2 separate regions of the Homo sapiens genome follow, and region 1 is linked to region 2. The links come from fine-mapping of genetic effects on gene expression. A gene starts in region 2. The other region holds a variant in brackets. All regions are shown on one strand. Distances are between the middles of the regions.

Region 1 (11,254 bases), 26 kb before region 2:
CTAGAGTGCAGTGGCATGATCTCAGCTCACCACAACCTCCACCTCCCTGGCCCAAACGATTCTCCTGCCTCAGCCTCCCACGTAGCTGGGATTACGGGTATGCACGACCACGCCCGGCTAATTTTGTACTTTTAGTAGAGACGGGTTTTCTCCATGTTGGCCAAGCTGGTCTTCGAACTCCTGACCTCAGATGATCCACCTGCCTCGGCCTCCAAAAATGCTGGGATTACAGGCGTGAGCCACCTCGCCCAGCCTCTTTTTACTTTATTATTGGATTTTAAAGCTGTTGTCTTATAGTAACTTAAGATATGGAACTGTAACCATAACAGGTCCATTGCCCATTGTGCATGACAAGTCAGTATGTAAGACCCTGGGCTGCAGCAAAGAAAGATGTTTAATTGCAGGGCCACCGAATGAGGAGACTGGAGGAAACTTCAAATCTCTCCCCGAGGGTTTAGGAAGTGGGCCAAGGTGCAGCCTGTTTAGTGCCTAGTTATAACTATATTTCTGTCCAGGACCCAGCATGCAATTCTTGTAAGTCCCGTGAGGGCAGTCTCAGAACTTGTCCTACTAGCGTTTACCTTTATTTAGCAGATAAAGATAACATGTTACCGATATTTCACCATGTAAAGGCCAAGGGAAACCAGGAGGTAGGTGTAAAACACAAGAAAAAAAAGGAAAATACAAGGAAAAAAGGAAACTCAACATATTTTAGAATACTTCACTGAAGGTAAGTAGTGCATCCAAAGGTTGGTGATCTGGAAAACATTTGAAAAGTGCTCTGAAAATTCTGGGGAAAAAATGGAAAGGAAGAGAAAAAATAGAGAACCAGAAAGTAAATGGTATTTCTTTTCTTTGTTTAAGAGACAAGGTCTCCCTCTGTCCCCCAGTACAGTGGCAGGATCATTTCACTGTAACCTTGAAGTTCCCCTTGGCCCTCTGAAGGTTTGCTGGAAAATAAAGCTGTTTGCAAAAGGCAGATTAATTGGAGAAAAGGAATATACATTTATTTAATGTTGTATACATGGGGGCCTTCAGACAAAGACCTGACCCCGCCCCCAGTGGGGTGTAGAAACTTTTTTTTTTTTTTTTTTTTGAGACAGTCTCACTCTGTTGCCCAGGCTAGAGTCCAATGGTGTGATCTTGGCTCACTGCAACCTCTGCCTCCTGGGTTGAAGCGATTCTTCCACCTCAGCCTCCTGAGTTGCAGGGACTACAGGCATGCGCCACCACGACCGGCTAATTTTTGTATTTATAGTAGAGACAGGGTTTCACCATGTTGGCCAGACTGCTGTCGAACTTCTTACCTCAGGTGAGCTGCCCATCTGGGCCTCTCAAAAGTGCCAGGATTACAGACATGAGCCCCTGTGTCCGGCCAGGTGTAGGAACTTTATACCATCTTCAGGTTACAGAAGTAATGTGAGCTCCCAGCATGGCCAAAAACATGTTATTTTGGTAAATCAGGTTTTAGTGGCAACACAGGTTACGGGTAGGGAAAGGAGACCTGGCTAGGAAAGGTGGTCTTGTTAGAAGCTTTCTGAGAGAATGGATGTTAAATGTTTAAGACCTTTAAAGGTGTCAGACAGGCTCTCATTTAACCTTTTCTAGATTCCAGACAAGGGAAGTCCTGGCTGCATTAATGGAGATTCTCCATAGACGCAGATTTCTTTCAAAAAAGACAGCTTTGCAGCACCACTTCTGTTTGCTGGCCCTCTGATAGCCATCTCAAAATATGTCAAATAAATATAATTTGAGGTAAAACATTTTTATTTCCTTCAACCACTACCTTTCCTTCTTCCCCAGCCAGTCCTTAAGCAGTCATTTAAAAAATTAGAAACTTTCACCTAACTGAATTCTTAATTCTTCATTCCATGGGCTTGCCTAAACCTTTGTCATTTTTGGAGGAAACATCAGAGTACTTTATTTTCTAAACTTTTCTGTGTTTGAGACACACCTTTTAGTATCTTATTTTGTTTCATTAAAAACAGTTAGATGTCCTGTCACTTGTTTTCTTGGATTGAATGTAATAGAAATAAGAACTGTGGCTACCTATTTTTCTAACTAGATGTTAGAGGAATTTAATACATTTTCTCCAGAATGTCTTAGTATGATTTTCTGCTAATTAATTTTGCCAATAAAATATGCTCTTTAGGGCTGGGCGTGGTGGCTCATGCCTATAATCCCAGCACTTCGGGAGGCCGAGGCAGAAGGATCACCTGAAGTCAGGAGTTCGAGACCAGCCAGGCCTACATGGCAAAACTCTTCTCTCTACTGAAAATAAAATAGCTAGGTTTGGTGGCGCATGCCTGTATACTCAGGAGGCTGAGGCACGAGAATCGCTTGAACCCAGGGAGCGGAGGTTGCAGTGAGCCAAGATCGTGCCACTGCATTCCAGCCTGAGCTACGAAGCAAAACTCTGTCTCAAAAAAGAAAAAAAAAAAATGCTCTTTAAAATCTTCCCCCTTAGGACTTAAAAATCTGAGTTTTTCTATTATCTTTATGTTTTCTGTTATATTAAATTATTGCTTCAGAGTATCTTTTTTTTTTTTTTTAGGAAACACCATTTAAGCTGTGCATGGTAGCATGTGCCTATAGTCCTAACTACTCAGGAGGCTGAGGGAGGCAGATCACTTGAGAACCCAGGAGTTCAAGGTTACAGTGAGCTATGGTCATGCCACTGCACTCCAGCCCAGGCGACAGAGCAATACCTTATCTCTTTAAAACAAATTAAAAAACCTACTTACTTGATTCTCTGTTTCTTCTCTCTTTTCCATTTTTTCCCAGAATTGTCAGAGCACTTCTCAGATGTTTTCCAGATCAATGACCTTTGGATGCAATGTTAGTTTCTGCTTATCTTCAATGAAGTATTCTCATGTTTTGGGTTTCCTTTTCTCCTATATCTTATCCAGCTCCTGGTTCAGTTAGAAGTTTTTGTAAGTCGGGGCAGATAATTATTGAAAGGCATTTAACTAAAGCATAGTAAGTTAAGAACGTGGGCTCTGGAGCTTGACTAACTTGGAGTTGAATCCTAGCCAGCTTTTTGCCCTTGGAATTTATTTAGCTACTCTATGCCTCAATTTCCTTGTTTATAAAGGAGGGATAATAATGGTACCCACTCTTAGAAGTTTTTGTGACAATTAAATGAGTTTATACATATAAAGCACATAACAAGCCTCAAAAGTTGGTGATGATTACAGATGTTTTTGAAAATACTCTACTCTTCCTCTGAATCTGAAGAGCAATCTAATCTATTTCTCCCATATATTGTCATTTTGCTCCTTCAAAAGATCTACAATACATTATTTGCCAACAGATAATGTGTACACAATGACCTTTACTGCCCCCTCCTCTTCCTGAGGGGGAGTTTTCCCTCTTCAGAGCTGCAATTGAGGGTAGTGTGCATAGCCCCTGCCTGTAGCGTTTTAATTAATTAATTTTTTCCCAGATAAAATGCAATGCGAGATACTTCTGTTACAGTCTGTCCTGCTTAAGAACAGGCATTGTCGTGTATTGGAAGTGGTGATCTGTTCCCTTTTTTATATATCCATTCAGCATATCAGTTTCTACCTCCCTTCCCACTCTCTATGCTGCTATAGTAATTCAGAGCCCAAACTCCAGGGTTTTCTGCTTGACCTCCCCCAACCCTGAATGTTGAGGTTATAAGAAATTGCCCCCACTCTAGACCCTGAGGACATGGGCTTCTGTCTTGTTTCTAGTACTGCTGCACACACTGTGGTTTGAGTGATTATATGAAGCACTGCTAGTTTGTCCAGAATAGCCAACTCTTACTGTAAAGAGAAGTAATTTAATTTACCGTAATTTACTAAATGTAAATTACCTATAAAGAGCATTCACTTGACCTTTAACAATCCTCAAAAATATAAATGTGTTCTCACAAATGGAAACTTCTAGCTACTTATGTAAGTCACTAATATTACACATTGGTATTTCTACCATATTTCGATAAGTATAGACTCAGAATGCAAAAATGTATCAAACTTTTCAAGGTTACCAAGAAAAAAGCAGAAGAAGAAATTTATTTTTAATTTCAAAATGTTTTGGGATTTCATCATTTTGATTTTTAAAAGTTAACATAGAAAATAATAAAAAATGAAACAGCTTATCTGAATATAAGCTGACCCACAGTAGTCACACTGATTACAGCAGGCCTTCTGGTCACATAGGGTTGTCTCCTTAAATAGCAGAGGTTGTCTACAGCTTCTGAATTAGCATGGCAGAAGCACCTCCTCCTCCATTGCAAATACTGGCAAGACCGTATTCTCCTTGCTTCAAGGCATGAGTCAAATGACCAACAATCCTGGCTCCAGACATCCTAAAATTAAGAAAGCATTTACTTCTTTAATGAAGTACAGAATTTATGACTAACCAAAATGTTTCTATTCCAATTTAACTTCTTGAAAACCTTACTAGCCACTACTACTTGCTGAATTAACTACTACTATTCTAAAACTAAAACTTGGAGGACTTGTTTCAGGAAGGGTCACAGATCTTAGATCATTTTTTGAGATGGAGTCTCGCTCTGTCGCCAGGCTGGAGTGCAATGGCAGAATCTCAGCTCACTGCAACATCCACCTCCTGGGTTCAAGCGATTCTCCTGCCTCAGCCTCCCAAGTAGCTGGGACTACAGGCGTGCACCACCACACCCAGCTAATTTTCGTATTTTTAGTAGAGACAGGGTTTCGCCATGTTGGCCAGGATGGCCTCTATCTCTTGACCTCGTGATCTGTTCACCTCAGCCTCCCAAAGTGCTAGGATTACAGGCGTGAGCCACCGTGCCTGGCCAGGTCACAGATCTTTTAAAAGTACAGAACAGTATAATGGATAGAAGAGTAGAGTATAATGGAAGAGGGATGTGGGATAAACTACATATTGGGTGACTGACAGGTGCACTGAAATCAGCCCCCACCACTATAAATTCATCCATGTAACCAAAACCCACGGTACCCTAAAGCTAATGAAATAAATAGGAAGGAGAAAAAGGGGGTAAAAAGTCTAAATGTACACTTTTTCTTCTTCAGCATAAAACATTATTAGGTTTCAAATAACAGATGTGACAGGTCTCTGTTCAGTATTGGATACCATCTATCAGAAATGGTTTTTGCCTTATGAAAGATGGGTAGGAAGGAAAACTTAAGAGCAATGGGAATTATGAAGCAGTTTTAAGTTTAGCTAGAAACACAAAGGCAGCTCTTAACCTAGATATAGTTATTATTTTTACCTACCCAATTGGATGTCCCAGAGAAACAGCTCCTCCATTGATATTCACTTTTTGGGGATCAATCTCCAACATTTTAATGTTTGCTAGTACAACCAGACTAAAGGCTTCATTTACTTCCCACATTGCAATATCTTCTTTTTTCAATCCCACATCTTTAAGAACCTTAAATTTTTTAAAAGACAGATGATGTTCAAATAATTAGCAATCACAACTTACTGTCATCATTTCCTTGAAATACTACAGTTTGACATAAGTTATTTAAATATGGAAGTTCTTGGTTTCAGATGGAAGGATCTCTATTTTCAGATTTTTTTTTTTTCCAACAGTCTTGCTCTGTCTCCCAGGCTGGAGTGCAATGGCGCCATCTTGGCTCACTATAACCTCTGCCTCCCAGGTTCAAGCAGTTCTCCTGTCTCAGCCTCCTGAGTAGCTGGGATTACAGATGCCCACCACCATGCCCAGCTAATTTTTTGTATTTTTAGTAGAGACAGGGTTTCACCATGTTTGGCCAGGCTGGTCTCAAACTCCTGACCTCAGGTGATCTGCTCACTTCAGCCTCCCAAAGTGCTGGGATTACAGGCGTGAGCCACCGCACCCGGCCCATTTTCAGATTTTTAGTTGCTCATCTTATTCCATTATATCAAAGAATTTTGTTTGCATTATGTCTGTTTTGACATAGGGGACAGAAAATTTGATTTTCTTTCCACAGATATTTGAAAAGGTACATTTTCTATTTAGGGGCACATAATGCTTTATATATTCTTAAGCTCTGCTTTACTGATTGTGTGTTGCTTGGTTCTATATTCTTTTTTGTTGTTGTTGATTTATTTTGAGACAGGGTCTTGCTCTGTCACCCAGGCTGAAGTGGAATGGCACAGTCATGGCCCACTGCAGCCTTGACCTCCCAGGCTCAAGCGATCTGCCTCCCAAAGCGCTGGGATTACAGGCGAGCGCCACTGCACCCAGCCATTTCTATGTTCTTGACTGTTAATGAAAGAGGTATATTAGTTTCTAATATTAGTGATATTAATGCATCCCCTGCAGTTTCTGCTTTATAAATGTTACTGTAGGGTTAT[C/A]TGGGCCACAGATATTTACATCTGTTGCAGTTTCATTGTAAGTCATTTATTTAAAATCTTACACTATATGATCTGTTTTGTTTTGGTAGTTCCTCAGCTATGCAGGAAGGTGTATTTGTGCCAGTGATTATCCCTATGCTAATACTTTTTAAAACATTACTAGTGAGTGCCCTAAAACATTACTAGTGAGTGCCCTTTTTCTTTACAGAAGAAATTTGATTGTTGTGAGCGATAATAAAATTAACGTGGAACTCTTCCTCCATCTTCCTCTCTTCTACTAGTGGACTAAGGGTAGCTTTCTAGCCTATACAGCTCAAACAGCTTCCACTGTTCCAACAACACAAAACAAAATATGGTACCCATATATAGCTATGTCTGTAGCTCTCAGAAGTTATTCTACCTTCAGAATCCAGAATTGTTTATTACCCTTGCTTTCCAACGTGATGTTACTCACTTTCAGAAGCTGCGTGTTCCTTTCATTTTCTGAGATCTGCTAGCTCTGAGCAGATCATCACTCCACTGGCCCCTTGTTTCTGATCTTCTCTATTCTTGTTTCCTACTGATTCTGCAGTTTTTTTTTTCATTGCGGGGGTTGGGGGCAGTGGGGAGAATCTGATTTTACTAAAATTCTGCAATTTTTTTTATCTGGGTGCTTACAGAAGTTTACTGTCAGGGTGAGGCCCTCTCAAAAGGAAATATTTACTTAAGATTTCTAAGAACCCTGAACCCCTAAAACTTTCTTTTCCTGTGACTGCTTAGCAATTTCCCACTGAGACTTGGATAGCCCTTACTGACAATTTGGAATATGTAGGTTTTCTGTCTCTAGTTTTACTATTTACTCTGAAGACCTGCTGCCAGCTGTTCCCTTTCAGAATGGAGTCCTCTCCTGGGGAGTGACTAGTTGCTTTCCATTCTAGATCTGGAACCATCAGCCAGCATTCCCTCCGCTTTGTGGTTACCACACCAGGTGTGTGAGTTCTGTATGATACTTACAAGTAATTCAGATGTGTAGTTTTACCTGTTCTACTGAAGATGTAGTTTGTGAGCTGTTCTTTATTTTTTTTTTTTTGTTTGTTATCCTTGTTGCTCTTACTCTTTTCAGGAGAAGACATGGGAAGATTTGAAACCAAGCTATCTCTCTGCTTTGGCAGATAACATTTAAAATCTTAAAAACTGCAACCTTGGTATAAGCAAACCAGAAGCTAGCATAATGGAGTATCGCCCCTCACTTTGTTCTCACCATAGATGCAGCATATACAGGAGCAATTGGAAAATCAATAGGTTCTACAGCAGCGTCAGCAAATGCTGTTTAAAAAAAGGGGGGGGGGGGTTGTTAAAATCTTTTTTTTTTTACTGTATAGAATATGCACAAGCCAAGTTTAGCCCATTAAATGCACATTTCCTAGCCCCTTTAATATATGTAAATATATGTCTTCCTTTTCTAGGATTCTACACTTTATAAAATTACTCCAGTAATCTAAGACACTGATTTTCATTGGGGGGGAGTTTGGGGGTATTTGCCTCTAGGAACATTGGCACCACCTAGAGATGTTTTTGGTTGTCAGAATAGTTCAGATGCCACTGGGTAAAGACTAAGGATTCTGCTAAACATCTACAATGCATAGAACAGTCCCTACAACAAAGAATTACTTAGTGCAAAAGTCAATAGTGCTGAGGTTAAGAAACCATGATCTAAGCTAAGAAAAAAAATGAAGTTATAAGGCTTTTTATAAAGTAACAAAATAGCATCTGTTAAGTCCTTAGGAAGAAGGCAAGACAGATTTCTGCAGCTAAAAATCGGCTTAAGGACATTGAGAACTTGCCCAAGGCCACAGAGTTAATAAATACTAAAACACCACACATGTAAATTTTGTATTTCTGGACTCCTAATCCCATATTCTTTTTTTCCTACATAGCTGCCTCTGTAGGAAAATGCATGTACTTTATTTTCTGCTATTTATCATACAGGACAGGAAGTTTTTTAAAGCTTAATTTAAAAAAAAAGAAAAAGAGACAAGATCTTGCTCTGTTGCCTAGGCTGGCTGCAGCTTTGACATCTTGGGCTCAAATGATCGTCAGCCTTAGCCTCCTACGTAACTGGGACTACAGGCATGCTACCACACCTGGCTAATTTTTTTCTTTCAGAGGTGGGGTCTCACTGTGTTGCCCAGGCTGGTCTCAAACTCCAGGCCTCAAGCAATCCTGCCTTATCCTCCCAAAATGCTGGGGTTACAGGCGTGAACCACTGTGCCCAGCCCTTAAAGCTTAATCTTATATAAAGTATAATGAAAATATTAAAGGAGCTTCTATCTCAATTGAAATATGTATCAATTAAATTCTGCCACAAGTACAACCTAGGTAGTAATACTTAATATTGGAGTTGGCTATATCTAACAAGTAAACTCAATTTCATGAAGAGCTTATAGATGTTTAGAAACCTTATTTTTTTTTAAGACAGGGTCTCGCTCTGTCACCCAGGCTGGAGTGCAGTGGTACAATCTCAGTTCACTGCAACCTCAAACTCCTGGGCTCAAGGCATCCTCCCACCTCAGCTTCCCGAGTAGATGGTAGTACAGGCACATGCCACCATGCTCAGCTAATTTTTTAACTTTTTGTAGAGACGAAGTCTCACTATATTGCCCAGGCTGATTTCGAACTCCGGGGCTCAAGCAATCCTCCCACCTCAACCTCCGAAAGTGCTGGGATTACAGGTGTGAGCCACCTCGCCTGGCCTTACCTACTATTCTTGCCAGTGGTGTAACATTGAGCCTCTTCGCTGCATCTGCCGTCATGAGAACCAGAGCAGCTGCTCCATCATTCAGTGTACTGGCATTGGCAGCTGTTACTGTGCCTGAAAGCAAAAATGAGGTTGAAGTCAAAACATTCCTTCACAATAAATGTATTTGGTTCAATTCAACAAATACCTATTGCCTGGGCTGCTAAATGTTTAAAGAAATTACAAATATGGGTGGAGACAATTCCTGCCCTCAGGAAACATGTACACAGCTAACTGCAAGACAATGTAAGAATGCCTTTTTGTGTACATAAAACAGTTTTCTCAAACATCACAAACATGCATGATGGCACTGGATAAATGCTCGTCTACAACTCTTGAAACATAGGGACCAGTTAATATTTTTGTCTCCAGGGTCTAACTTTCCTTATTCAATATATAGCAGGTACTCACTACATATTTTTCAAATCAGATATTTATTCTTATCTAGAATCACCTGGAGATAAATATAAATGAATGTTAAAAACTACCAAACCACTTTAAATAGAAGAATGTTATTATGGTATATAAATTATATCAATAAATCTGTTTTTTTCAATGCCAATGAAGACCCTATCATAGACTGCTACATATGAAAAACTGAATTCTATAGTCATGTTATACATATCTTCCCTGGGATTTATATATTGAAGGTATAAACTACCAAAACAATTTTACATGAGCCTGATATACTGAAAATGTTAAATAACATCTAGATGTTTTCTAGAATTTTTCAAAATCCTTAGGCAATTCTAAGAACTAGATATGGTATACTGGCTCAATTTTTTCTTATGCTTCATTTCTTAACACTAACCATTTTCTTTCTGGAAAACTGTCTTCAGCTTTGGAACTTTGCTAAAATCAACACGTTTATATTCTTCATCTTCTTTCACCACTACATCTGGTTGACCTAAAATAAAAATATTTTAAGTAAAATCGCTCAAAACAAGTAGTCATTCAGCAAGCAACTGTTGTACAAGATGCCTAGTAGTCTGTGCCTCCCTTTGTATCCCTGCTTCACTTAAACCATCCCAAGTAAACACTCATCTAGAATCTGTTAACTATAACCTCTATTATGTTACCATCTTAAAAAGAGAAACTTACAAAGTAGCTTCACAATTTTTTTTTTTTTTTTTTTTTTTTTTGAGGCAGGGTTTCCCTCTCCTGCTTAGGCTGGCATGATCACAGTTTACCTCATCCTCTCCAGGCCCATGTGATCCTCCCACCTCAGCCTCCCAAGTAGCTGGGACTACAGGTGGGAGCCACCACAGCCAGCTAATTTTGTTTGTTTGAAATGGTCTTGCACAGTCTCCCAATAGAGTGCAATGCTACAAACCTAGCTCACTGCAGCCTCGGACTCCTGGGCTCAATTGATCCTCCTGCCTTGGATTCCCTAGTAGCTGGGACTACAGGCGTGTGCTGCTATACCCAGCTAATTTTTAATTTTTTTGTGTGGAGGCCAAGTCTCACTTCGTTGCCCAGGCTGGTCTCAAACTCCTGGGCTCAAGCAATCCTCCCACCTCGGCCTCCCAAAGTGTTGGGATTACAGGTGTGAGCCACTGCACCCAGCCACAAAATTTAAATCTTCTACACCTCCATGTCCCCTTTTCTTCCTCAACTCCCTTCTATGATCACAGACCCCACTCTCCTGACCCCAGAGGCAGCTGTCTGACCTACACTAGATAAGCTCTAGTATTCTGTCACCTAGAGCACAGTAATCATTCCTGGAATAGAATTGTAACCTAAAGCAAGTTAATGAGTCTTCATTGTGGATTTATTCTGCTGGAACTGGTGAGAAAGTCTCTCCTTTTTGAGAACCCTATATATGTGACCCTAGAGGTAGAGGCAGCAACTTTAGAAAGGCTGAGAGAATAAAGCACAAAAGCCTGCAGGTGTGAGAAGCCAAGAGAGCATGTCTTAGTAGTAGTGAACACCCAGTTCCAATCCCTGAAGTTCCCAGAGCTGAATGGTTGCTACTGTTCATCCTTCAGTTCTTGGAGGCACTCCCGGTAACCTTCTAGTAAATCCCTTTTCAATTTAAAATACCGTATTGACTGTCACAGGAAAAAGTTCTAATAAATTTCTCAAATTTAAAGTAATACTCAGGGATCTTATAAATGGATTGAAATCTGACATTAAGTTGGGTAGATTTATATTCTCTCTGAA
Region 2 (11,991 bases):
GAACCTGCATGATCTGGCTCTAGGTTTTCTCTCCAAATTTACATCACTCTTGCTCTGTGCCAGCCACTGGCATCTCTTTGTTCTAAACCCTATCCCGATACCTCAAGGTCTCTGCAGTGTGCCTCTGCCAGTAATAGTCTCCTCAGGCCGGGCCTAGTGGCTCATGCCTATAATCCCAGCCCTTTGGGAGGCCGAGGCAGGTGGATCACTTGAGATTAGAAGTTTGAGACCAGCCTGGCCAACATGGTGAAACCCCGTGTCTACTAAAAATACAAAAATTAGCCAGGTGTGGGGGTGGGCACCTGTAGTCCCAGCTACTTGGGAGGTTGAGGTGGGAGAATCGCTTGAATCCAGGAGGCAGAAGTTTCAGTGAGCCGAGATCGCGCCGCTGCCCTCTAGCCTGTGCAACAGAGTGTGATCCTGTCTCCAAAAAAATCAAAAACAAAACAAAACAAAAAGTCTTCCCAGCTCTCCATGGCTGGCTCATTTTTATTCTTCATGTCTTTTCTTTTTTTTTTTTTTTAGACGGAGTCTCACTTTGTCACCCAGACTGGAGTGCAGTGGCGCGATCTCGGCTCACTGCAAGCTCCGCCTCCCAGGTTCACGCCATTCTCCTGCCTCAGCCTTCCAGGTAGCTGGGACTACAAGCGCCCGCCACCACGCCTGGCTAATTTTCTGCATTTTTATAGAGACAGGGTTTCACCTTGTTAGCCAGGATAGTCTCGATCTCCTGACCTGGTGATCTGCCCGCCTCAGCCTCCCAAAGTGCTGGGATTACAGGCGTGAGCCACCACACCCAGCCTATTCTTCATGTCTTTTCTAATGACACATTCCCAGAGTGGTCCACCCTAACTACTCTATTTAAAGTTACCCTCTACTTTTTCCTCTCTTTTATATGAATATCTTTATTTCCTTCAAAGCACCTCTTACACTGTAAGTATGTGGTTCACATCTTTGTTTTATTATCCACCCCTCCAACATAATACAGGCTTCCTGATGGCGGGATGGTGTCTCTTGCTCACTGTTACATCCCTATGACTTAGCACAGTGCCTAGCGCTCCTTCAATATCAGAAACGAATGACAAAATTATAGTATGGTCAGGACACTGAACCATATAGTGTATAATAATACATGCTGAATGAACACAACCCATTAAGTTTTATCTACATAACACAATTATCTTTCAGGGAGGGCTCAGCCATGCCAGGCAGAGGTCAGCACTCCTATCTCAGCTTCCACAACGCCCGTGCACATTCTAATTGTTCCAGAATATATAATTTTGTAACCCTCAGGTGGCTTTTCTCCTCACTAGACTGTGAATTCCAAGAAGAGACTGATTTTATTTATTTTCTATCCCAGTGATGGCAGCAGACACAAAACAAATATTTGAAGACAGTCTGAAAGTTACCAATAACTCAGAGAAACAAAATTTCAGCTACAGTAAATGTTATGAAACCAGCAAAATTGATCATGAACTAGAGAGTAACTGACGGCCTACTTTACATGGGAGAGTCAAAAAAGGCCTTCTAGCAATGTTAATGGAGCTGAGAAATGAATGTTAAAGAGTCATCCTTGGAAAGATCCAGGAAAAGAACATTTGAGGCATCAGGAACACGTAGGACTAAGGCCACGAATTCGGAACAAAATTGGCACACATACTAAGTATAGAAAGAAGGGTCCTGTGGCAAAAGCAGAGTGAGCACGGCAGCAGCTGAGGCCACAGAACTAAGTAGGGCCCAGCAGATCATAAGGGTCTAGATTCTGGCCTATGGGCAATGACAAGCCACTGAAAGCTTTTATGTTATAAAAAGACCACTCTGGCTGCGGGGGAACTGAGTGTACTAGGGTAAGATTAGAAAAAGGGAAGGGGGCCAGGTGTGGTGGCTCACACCTGTAATCACTTTAGGAGGCTGTGGTGGGCAGATCATCAGAGGTGGATCACCTGGTGAGCTGGTCAGGAGTTCGAGCCCATCCTGACCAACATGGTGAAAGCCCGTCCCTACTAAAAATACAAAAAGTAGCGGGTGTGGTGGCACATGCCTGTAATCCCAGCTACTCAGGAGGCTGAGGCAGGAGAACTGCTTGAACCCGGGAGGCCAAGGTTGCAGTAAGCCAAGATCGTGCCACTGCACTCCAGCCTGGGCAACAAGAGCGAAACTTGATCTCAAAAAATAAAAAAGAAAGAAAGAAATTAGCAACAGGAAGGAAGTAGCATACAGGCTGTTAGGTCAAAGGGAAGAAGCAAGGTTACCAAAGCCAAGGGGTCAGGATCCCAGCAGAAGCGGGAACCACAAGAGAGACAGACACTGCCAGATACAGACAGACAGACAAATTATTCTGGCTTCTCCCTTCCTCCTATCTTCCAATCTTCCACTGGTGCCTTCCAGTGGCTACACCCAGCCAGAAGCCAGCTGATATTGGTCAGCCTACAGTAATGCAGACAGACTAGGGGAGGGAAGATAAATGAATCTGGGAGCAAATAAGCCCAAGACTGGCACAATACAGGAATTTTTTTTTAAGTCTGAGTATTAAAAGAAGCTGAATAAAACTGGATCAAAACACAAAACAGTTTCAAGAAGGGAGTGGTCAATAGTGTCAAATATAGGATAAAGGTCAAGAAGAAAAAACTTGGGCTGAGCACAATGGCTCACACCTGTAATCCCAGCACTTTGGCAGGCCAGGAGTTCAAGACCAGCCTGGCCAACAGAACCAGACCCCGTGTCTACAAAAACTAAAATTAAAATAGATTTAAAAAAATAATTAAAAAACAAAGAAAAAGGAAATCACTGTATTTTTCAGCTTCAGTGGCAAAGAAATTTAACTGCAGAGAGTTAAGGAGAAATAGATGCAGAATACATGGGAGGTAATGAGTAAAGACCACTCCTTTGACCAGAGAGAGAAAAGTGATTAGAGCTAGAAAGGCAATGTGCTCCAATAAAGTCCATAAAGATTTGTTGACCATAAAAGAGACCTGGTAAGCAAAGGGAAAAGAGCCAATGTAATGAGAGGTCAAATTCCATTCTACAAAATAGCACAGAAAACTGGAAATCCTGTTTATAGTTCAGTAAATGACCATTTAATTCAAGTGTCCAATACAACTGCTTCCTAGAGTTCAGTAATATGAATGTCACATATCATACATTACAGCATGTACAGGCTTATTTTTTTCATGAGGAGTATTTGTGTTTCATTTTAAGATCTTTTTTTTTAAGACGGAGTCTCACTCTGTTGCCCAGGCTGGAGTGCAGTGGCATGATCTCAGCTCACTGCAACCTTCCCCTCCTCCCGGGTTCAAGCGATTCTCCTGCCTCAGCCTCCCAAGTAGCTGGGATTACAGGCGCCTGCCACCACACCCAGCTAATTTTTGTGTGTGTGTGTATTTTTAATAGAGGTGGGGCTTCACCACGTTGGCCAGGCTGGTCTTGAACTCTTGACCTCAAATGATCTACCCACCCCGGCCTCCCAAAGTGCTGGGATTACTGGCATAAGCCACCTCAACCAACCTGATTGTAAGATCTTAATTAAACCATAAATTAAGAAGGTTCTGAACTTTTTTTTTTTACATCTCTAGAGTACCTAGTTCACCTATGTCACCTAGTCAATACTGACTGAAACCCAAGATAACCTAATTACTTTCTTGTGATTTCTTCACTCATCCCATGAGACTAACAAATAGGCTAAAAACTCATCTTCCCTGGAAACCTACGCCTTGTGACTTTTCTATTATCTCAGTCACCCAGGATCAATTTTAGACTCTTTCTTTTCCCTTGGCTTCGCACCCTCACTCCCTAATTGTCAAGTCCTAGACTGGTTCTTTTACAATCTCTTGCAAAGCTCCTACCGCCAGCACCCTTGTGCAAGTAATGTTATTCTACGCCCAGACGTAAGAACTAGAGTGACCTACCATTGCAACAAAAACAAACATATCAACAATCCCTACTTAACTAGGGTCAAGTCCATACTCACAACATAACTGGATCTCCAAGCTTATTGCCCCCATCGACCTAGAAAACTCAAGCTTCACCAACCACACCCTGAAGGTCTCTACCTATTCCTGAGGCTTTGCCTGACAATCTGTGGTGCGTACTCCCTTGCTTACGCATGTGGAGAATAAATTCTTTGAGACTCTGCCCCTGCTGTGTTCCCTAAACACAACGGTCAGAAGAGCGACAGCCCTTGGAACGCCCTCAGTATGTGAGCTTTGCTCATATGTCAAGTATAATTTATTGTATTATCTGAGTAGTCATTTGTTTTCCCTGATAAATTTCAGGCTGCTCCAAAAAACATCTGTTATGATCACATGGTGCCCTCTCCCCTTGTATGCCCAATGATTATCTATTGTATTAAAAAAGAAAAGGAACCTCTCCTGACAATAACGCACACAAATATGTTTTAAAGAAAATCTCGGGAGCAGCTGCACAGGCCTGCAAAGAGACTCTCCCCGATCCCACCGCTCAGGCCGGGCCAGCGCCAATCCTGGCGGTCCTGCCCGCCCAGACACGTGCCCTTGTTTGACACACCAGTAACGCTCATTAAGATGATTACGCCGAGACCTTGGAAGTAGAAACGCGCTGTAAAAATAGGCGAGTCCCTGGGTGTTATCGGAGCACTTAGGCGGTTTTTGGACCAGAACCCGTCGCGTGACTGTCCTGGGGCCTAAGCCGCGCGCCCGGGCCGCGGGAGCCGCAACGGCCGCGGGCTGGAAGCTTCCGAGGCGGGGACTCCTCGCATCCCGGGTCTGAGTGCTGTGGGGACGAACCCCGCTCACCTGCACCAGCCTCCGGAGCAGGGGGCTGCGGCTGCGGGCGCCGCTGCGCAGAAGTGCCGCCAGCACAGCCATGGTCGCAGAGGGCTGAGTATCGGCTCCACAGGCGTAGACTAGCGGCCTCCTCCCCAACCCCGCACCCCTAGCGGCCCGGCGCGGGCACCGCCCATCCCGCTTCCTCCAATAGTCGCCTCTCAGTCGGCGGCGATTGGCCGGCAGCCAAGGGCGGGGCGGAGCCTGGCGCTGGGACACCGCAGCCTGGGCCAGGAAAGGTTGACGAGTGAAGGACGTGGATGGAGACACTGGCGCTGGGGTCAACGAGCACCTGACACGCTGCTGGCTCCCGTGTCCACCAAGTCTAACCTGCCGGGGCCGGTGGTTTATGTGTAATCCGAGATTTTTCGATTTACTGAGCATGTTTCCCTTAGGCCTACCCAGCACAAACTCATGAAAATATTTTAGGATTTTTTTTTTTTTTTTTGAGACAAGGTCTCACTCTGTCACCCAAGCTGGAGTGCAGTGACGTGACCACAGCTCACTGTAATCTCGACCATCAGGGCTCAAGCGATCCTCCCTCCCCAGCCATCCCAGTAGCTGAGACTACAGGCGAAAGCCTCCACAACCAGATAATTTTTGTATTTTTTGTGGAGACGGGGTTTCACCATGTTGGCCAGACTGGTCTTGAACTCCTGGACTCAAGTGAGCCTCCCTCCTCGGCCTCCCAAAGTGCTGGGATTACAGGCGCAGGCGACCACGCCCAGCAAATTGTTGTATTTTTTTTTTTTTGTAGAGACTAGGTCTCCCTATGTTGCCTAGGCTGGTTGCTGACTCCTGGGCTCAAGCAGACGGCCAGACTCAGCCTCTCAAAGTGCTGGGATTACAGGCGTGAGCCATCACACCCAGCCGTGAAAATATTTTGAAGCAATCAAATTCCAGGCTCAGTCCAGATACAAATATGGGTAAAAAGGCCTCAGGTGATTCCAGTCCCCAACCTTCAACCACTCCAGCTGAGACCCCAGACATCATGGAGCAGAGACAAGCCATACCCACCATGCTGTCTGAATTCATGGTCCACAGAAACGAGAGAAAACAAATGGTTGTTATTTTAGGCCATTATGTTTTGGAGTATTTTTTTTTTTTAAGATAGGGTCTCGCTCTTGTCACCCAGTCTGGAGTACAGTGGTGCAATCATATCTCACTGCAGCCTCAAACTCCTGGTCTCAGGGGATCCTCCTGTCTCTGCCTCCCAAGTAGCTAGGGGATCCTCCTGTCTCTGCTTCCCAAGTAGCTACGTAGCTAGGACTACAGGCATGCTCCACCATGCTAATTTTTTTAATTTTTATTTTATATAGAGAAGGGGTCTTGCTATGTTGCCCAGGCTGGTCTCAAACTCCTGGCCTTAAGAGATCTTCTGGCCTTGGCCTCCCAAAGCACAGATATTATAGGCATAAGCCACCTAAATAGGTCTGTTTGGGGGTAATTTTTTTTTTTGAGACAGTCTCGCACTTGTCACCCAGGCGCGATCTTGACTCACTGCAACCTCTGCCTCCTGAGTTCGCCTCAGCCTCACGAGTAGCTGGGATTACAGGCGCACGCTGCCAAGCCTGGCTAATCTTTTGTATTTTAGTAGAGACGGGTTTTCACCATGTTGCCCAGAGGCTGGTCTCAAACTCCTGAGCTCACGCAATCCGCCCCCACTAGGCCTCCCAAAGTACTGGGATTACAGGCGTGAGCCACTGCACGCGGCCAGGGTAATTTTTTAATATAGCACCCTGTCTTTAATTTCCCCATCACTCCAGGTTTGTCCCTTAAAGTCCCCTGTGATTCCTGCACCGAAGAACCTCTCTATTCAACAGCTCACCAAGGCCTACCTCCTTCCTTGGAATGTCACACTCACACCTTTCCCTTCTACCAGAGGCCAAAGACAAATATTTTTCATACTGGGCTGCTTCGAGAATTATTGAAAGGAAGTCATTACATTGTATGTCAGTGTTTAAACTTTGTGTGTGTGTGTGTGTGAGAGAGAGAGAGAGAGAGAGAAACAGATATTTCTAACTGAAAAAGTTGAATTGTTAAAGAAATGACTCAGAAAACTAAAGGTCTGGCCTCATAGAGATTACCAGTTGTGAGAGGCCAAAGCTGATGACTAGGGTATCACACAGTAAAAGATGACTGGTTAGGCTGGGCGTGGTCGCTCACGCCTGTAATCACAGCACTTTGGGAGGCCCAGGTGAGTGGATCATTTGAAGTCAGGAGTTAAAAGCAGCCTGGCCAACATAGCAAAACCCCATCTCTACTAAAAATACAAAAATTAGCTGGGCATGGTAGTGGGCACCTGTGATCCCAGCTACTCAGGAGGCTGAGGCAGGAGAATTGCTTAAACCTGGGAGGTGGAGGTTGCAGTGAACTGAGATCACACCACTGCACTCCAGCCTGGGCAACAGAATGAGACTGTGTCTCAAAAAAAGAAGAAAAAAAAAAAGACTGGTTACATAGCTATGTACATAGTTCTTAATATGAACCAGTTCTTTTACAGTTTAATTTTAATTCTCCCAAAAATCCACTGAATTAGGGAGTAGCATTATCCACATTTTCCAGAAGTTTGTCCAAGGGCACAAAGCTAGTAGTTAGTGACACAGTTGCAATTGGAATCTAGGCAGTCTGGTTGCTAGGTCTAGGCTTCTAGGCACTCACTACACTAGTTGTGTCTTAGGAGACACCTGCCCTAGGAGAAACCTAACTAGGAACATAGAAGTCAGCTGTAATTGGACAATTCTGCCATCAGAGGCACTACCAGGAAAAAGTGCCACTATGTTCATCAGGACAGCTTCTAGAGAAGTTCAGAGACATTTAGGAGCATTGAGGGGAGAAGAATAGTACATTTATTTCTGGAGCTACAGCAGGCAAGCTGCTCTTTAAAACTAAACTTCAAAAAAATAAGAGTAGCTTTATCACCAATATGAGCACCAGGCAAAAATGTAGCTAATAATTTCATTTAAGAATCTAGGACTTGGCCGGGCGCGGTGGCTCACGCCTGTAATCCCAGCACTTTAGGAGGCCAAGGCAGGCGGATCACAAGGTCAGGAGATCGAGACCATCCTAACACGGTGAAACCCTGTCTCTACTAAAAATACAAAAAATTAGCTGGGCATGGAGGGGGCCACCTGTAGTCCCAGCTACCTGGGAGGCTGAGGTAGGACAGTGGCGTGAACCCAGGAAGCGGAGCTTGCAGTGAGCCAAGATCGTGTCACTGCACTACAGCCTGGGTGACAGAGCGAGACTCCGTCTCAAAAAAAAAAAAGAAAGTGACTAGATTAACATTTCTTCTGTGAAATAGAAATGGAGTGTTGGAATGAAAATTAAATACAATTAAGAGAGAATTATTTTTGTTTGTATTTTAAAATTTATTATTATTAGTACTAGTATTTTGGTAGACACAGGTTCTCACTATGTTGCCCAGGCTGGTCTCCAACTCCTGGGCCCAAGCAATCCTCCCTCAGTCTCCCAAAGTGCTGGGATTACAGGTGTGAGCCACCACACCTGGCCAAAGAAAAAATTTAAAAACATTTTTTGCATATCTGAATTTGTGGCTTTGGATTATCATTCCTGTCATAGCAGGCAATAGTGTCTGGACAGATGTATTAATGAAGAGCTACTCAAAAAGTGGTTTATCTGGGATTTATTACATTTGTCAAGGAGATCTAGTCAATACCTCCATCTAGTGGCAAACTTGTAAGTGGAGACTTAGGTCTTGCAAAGTATTATTAAAATATTGATAAAATAAAGCCCTCTGAAATGTCCATGAGACCCAGAGTGGCTTTCTAGAAGTAGAAGTTAGTTTTAGGAATATTAGAGCAATATTTTCACAGCAGGAAACTAGTGGAAAATTAAAAACATTTAAGAAAAACTTGTGGGTATTATATTTATAATACAAAGATGTTTGATATTCATTTCCAAGTAAGTTCTTCTACAACGAACAACTTCTGTCAAACTTAGACTACTGGAATAACTCGTTGTACTACGTTAAACAGTGTCCTTCCAAAAGATATGTTTGTTTAAGGGACAGGGTCTCTGGCCAGGTGTGGTGGCTCATGCCTGTAATTCTAGCACTTTGGGAGGCCAAGGAGGGCAGATCACCTGAGGTCAGGAGTTCCAGACCAGCCCGGCTAACATGGTGAAACCCTGTCTCTAGTAAAAATACAAAAAATTAGCTGGGTGTGGTGATGGGCTTCTGTAAGCCCAGCTACTCAGGAGGCTGAGGCAAGAGAATCGCTTGAACCCAGGAGGTGGAGGTTGCAGTGAGTCGAGATCGTGCCACTGTACTCCAGCCTGGGCGACAGAGCAAAACTCTGTCTCCAAAAAAAAAAAAAAAGAGAGAGACAGAGCCTTGCTCTGTCACCCAGGCTGGAGTGCAGTGGTGCGATCATAACTCACTGCAGCCTCCTAAGCTCAAGTAATCCTCCTGCCTCAGCCTTCCAAGTAGCTAAGACTACACGTGTGTCACCATGCCCACCTAATTTTTATTTTTTGTAGAGATGGGGCACTCACATTTCCACCCACTTTCTCTTCAAGGCAATCTAGGCTTAGTCTATCATGTGCCTCAAACTTCTTCCTCTGCCCATCACCCCAATCTATTAATAAAGGCACTTCCATGTTTGTGTATATTAATATGGCAGCACCCCACTTTTCAGTACCAAAATCTGTATTTGTTTCCTAAGATTGCAGCAGCAAATTACCACCAACTGGGTGGCTTAAAACAAAAGAAATGTATTTTCTTACAGTTCTGGAGGCTGGAGTCCAAGATCCAGGTGTTGGCAGGATTGGTTCTTTCTGTGGGTTCTAACGGAGAGTCTGTTCCATGCCTCTCTCCAAGATCGTGGTGGTTGTTGGAAATCCTTGGTATTCCTGGCTTTGTAGAGGCATCAGTCCAACCCCTGTCTTCTCCCCTGTGTGTGGCTTTTTCTCCACTCTTGCTATAAGGACACTGGTCATTGGATTTAGGGCCCATCCAAATCCAATTATGACCTCATCTTAATTTGATTACACCTGCAAGTTCTCTATTTCCAAATAGTCACATTCATAGGTACTTCGAGTTAAGACTCTAATATATCTCTTAGGGGCCAGGTGTGGTGGCTCAGGCCTGTAATCCCAGCACTTTAGGAGGCCAAGGCAGGAGGATGACTTGAGGCCAAGGGTTTGATACCAGCTTGGGCAACACAGTGAGACCCCCATCTCTATGAAAAAAATTTAAAAATTAGCCGGGGCCAGGCATGGTGGCTCATACCTGTAATCCCAGCACTTTGGGAGGCCAAGGCAGGAGGATGACTTGAAGCCAGGAGTTGGAAAACAGCCTGCTTACATTAAAATGCAAGTGGAAGGAGGTAAATTGAGGTAGGAATTGTTACTGGATGGAATGTCTTAACTGTGAGTTGTCCAAGTTCTTGGTGTATTGAACAAAAAATTGAACAAAACGCACTAACAAAGCAACAAAAGAACGGGCTAATGAAGGCACAGATTTATTGAAGAAGCCGAAGTACAATTCACAGGGTGGGAGCAGGCTTGAGCAAGTGGTTCAAGAGCCTCTTCAACTGGGGTTTTTATTAAGCTAAAGGAACCAAGCAACTCCCCTCAGTGCCCTTTAGAGGACTCCAATTGGCCACAGCCCATGAAGGATTGGCCTGTGACCAGAGGCTGACGTGGAGGCTTGGCACACAATCAGAGGCTGATGTGGAAACTTCTGTCTCATTATCACAGGAGCAAGGATGTGGCCTGTGTGCTGCCCAGTTTTGCCTAGACCTGGCTGCACCTGCTGTTCTTTTGTTTCTGCCTTAACCCTTGATGGCCTGAATTCCCTATTCTCCTGCCTCAGAATTGTTAAGCAAAAAGGAACCAGGACTTGATGATTTGGAAAATTCTCAGCCTAACTATACTGCCAAGGAGGAGAAGTTCTGGCCTGAAGAGTGTGTCTGGACAATAATTTGCTAAAGAGAGTTGTGTGACTCATGGATCCACTCAACCGTGTCAGCGAAGCCAGGAATAGAGTTGGGGTTATCCAGGAAAGATCCGTGGAGAACTTGAGAGTTCTAATGGTGTGCATCCCCGTGACATCAACAGAAAACTGACAAGATTTTTGAGAATTTTATACCAGCAGAAATACTCCCAGCCTGGATAGAAAGGGACAGAGACAGAACAAATTGAAGGGAAAATGACTGACTCCCAGGGCAGAGCCATGGATACAGAGGCCAGAGAGGACGAAGCTATAGGTCCAGAGGCCCAGGCCAACTGCACCCCCTGGGCCCAGAGGCTGGATCGAGTCAAAGGGTCATTAAGGCCTTGAAAATGAATGTAGTTTTCCCTTTTGTGTTAAAACCTGTGTGAGACAGTGACCCCTTTAATTCCTTGCAAATTCTTTCATAATGGAAATGTCTGTCCTGTGCTTGCCTCATCGCAGTCCCTTTGTGCTGCTGTAACAGACATCTGATTATTACTGGGTAATTTATAAGTAATAGAAATTTACTACTCACAGTTCTGGAGGCTTGGAAGTCCATGATCAAGGTGCCAGCATTACATGTCTGGTGAGGGCCTTCTTGCTACATCCTCATGTAGCAGAAGAGCAGATGGGCAAAAGGGCACCTAAGCGGTTCCTTCCAGCCCTTTTGTAAGGCACCAATCCATCCATGAGGGCAGAGCCCTCGTGGCCTCATTTCCTAAGGGGCCCACCTCCTAATACCACAACAAGTTTCAACATGAATTTTGGAGGGGACACATTCAAACCATTGCACCCACTGTTGTATTTTGGAAGCAGATAACTTGTTTCCTAGTTTCACATGTCCACAGTTAGGAGAGGAATTTTGCCCTAGAATGTATCATATCATACCTAGAGTCTCAGTGATACCTGGTTTGCATGATTTAGATAATGAGATTCGCAATGTTTTGAGTTGACTATACTTAGAGATTTTGGATTTATAGTTAATGCTGAAACAGGATTTTTGAGGATGTTGGGATAAGGCGAGTGTATTTTGCATGTGGGATGAATGTGAATTTTATGGGGCTAGAGGATTGACTGTACTGGGTTGAAGTGTTCCCCCCAGATTCACATCCACCAAAACGTCAGAATGGAACCTTGTTTGGAAACAGGGTCTTTGAAGGTGTGATTAGTTAAGATGACGTCACACTGGTGTACACTGGCCATAAATCCAATATGACTGGTGGTGTACTTATAAGA

What was found. PIP is the estimated chance that this variant, and not a neighbour inherited with it, causes the effect.
Region 1: its variant is the best candidate, but not a certain one, in a credible set for the expression of ACAT1 in whole blood (TOPMed, PIP 0.64).

The regions. Positions count from the first base shown.
Region 1 is chr11:108,140,349-108,151,602 of GRCh38, reverse strand. ACAT1 (acetyl-CoA acetyltransferase 1) reads right to left here. Exons shown (of 12, transcript NM_000019.4): 8 at 9,903-9,998; 9 at 9,053-9,166; 10 at 7,556-7,620; 11 at 5,244-5,401; 12 at 4,000-4,333. The coding sequence ends at 4,213. Among named protein-coding and RNA genes, the nearest start is that of ACAT1, 24 kb to the right of the region's middle. RefSeq lists a silencer at 666-834. The variant C/A (reference allele first, on the strand shown) is at 6,316.
Region 2 is chr11:108,114,457-108,126,447 of GRCh38, reverse strand. ACAT1 (acetyl-CoA acetyltransferase 1) reads right to left here and starts at 4,881. Exons shown (of 12, transcript NM_000019.4): 1 at 4,770-4,881. The coding sequence starts at 4,841. RefSeq lists enhancers at 2,205-2,264, 2,325-2,444 and silencers at 4,670-5,079, 4,681-5,219.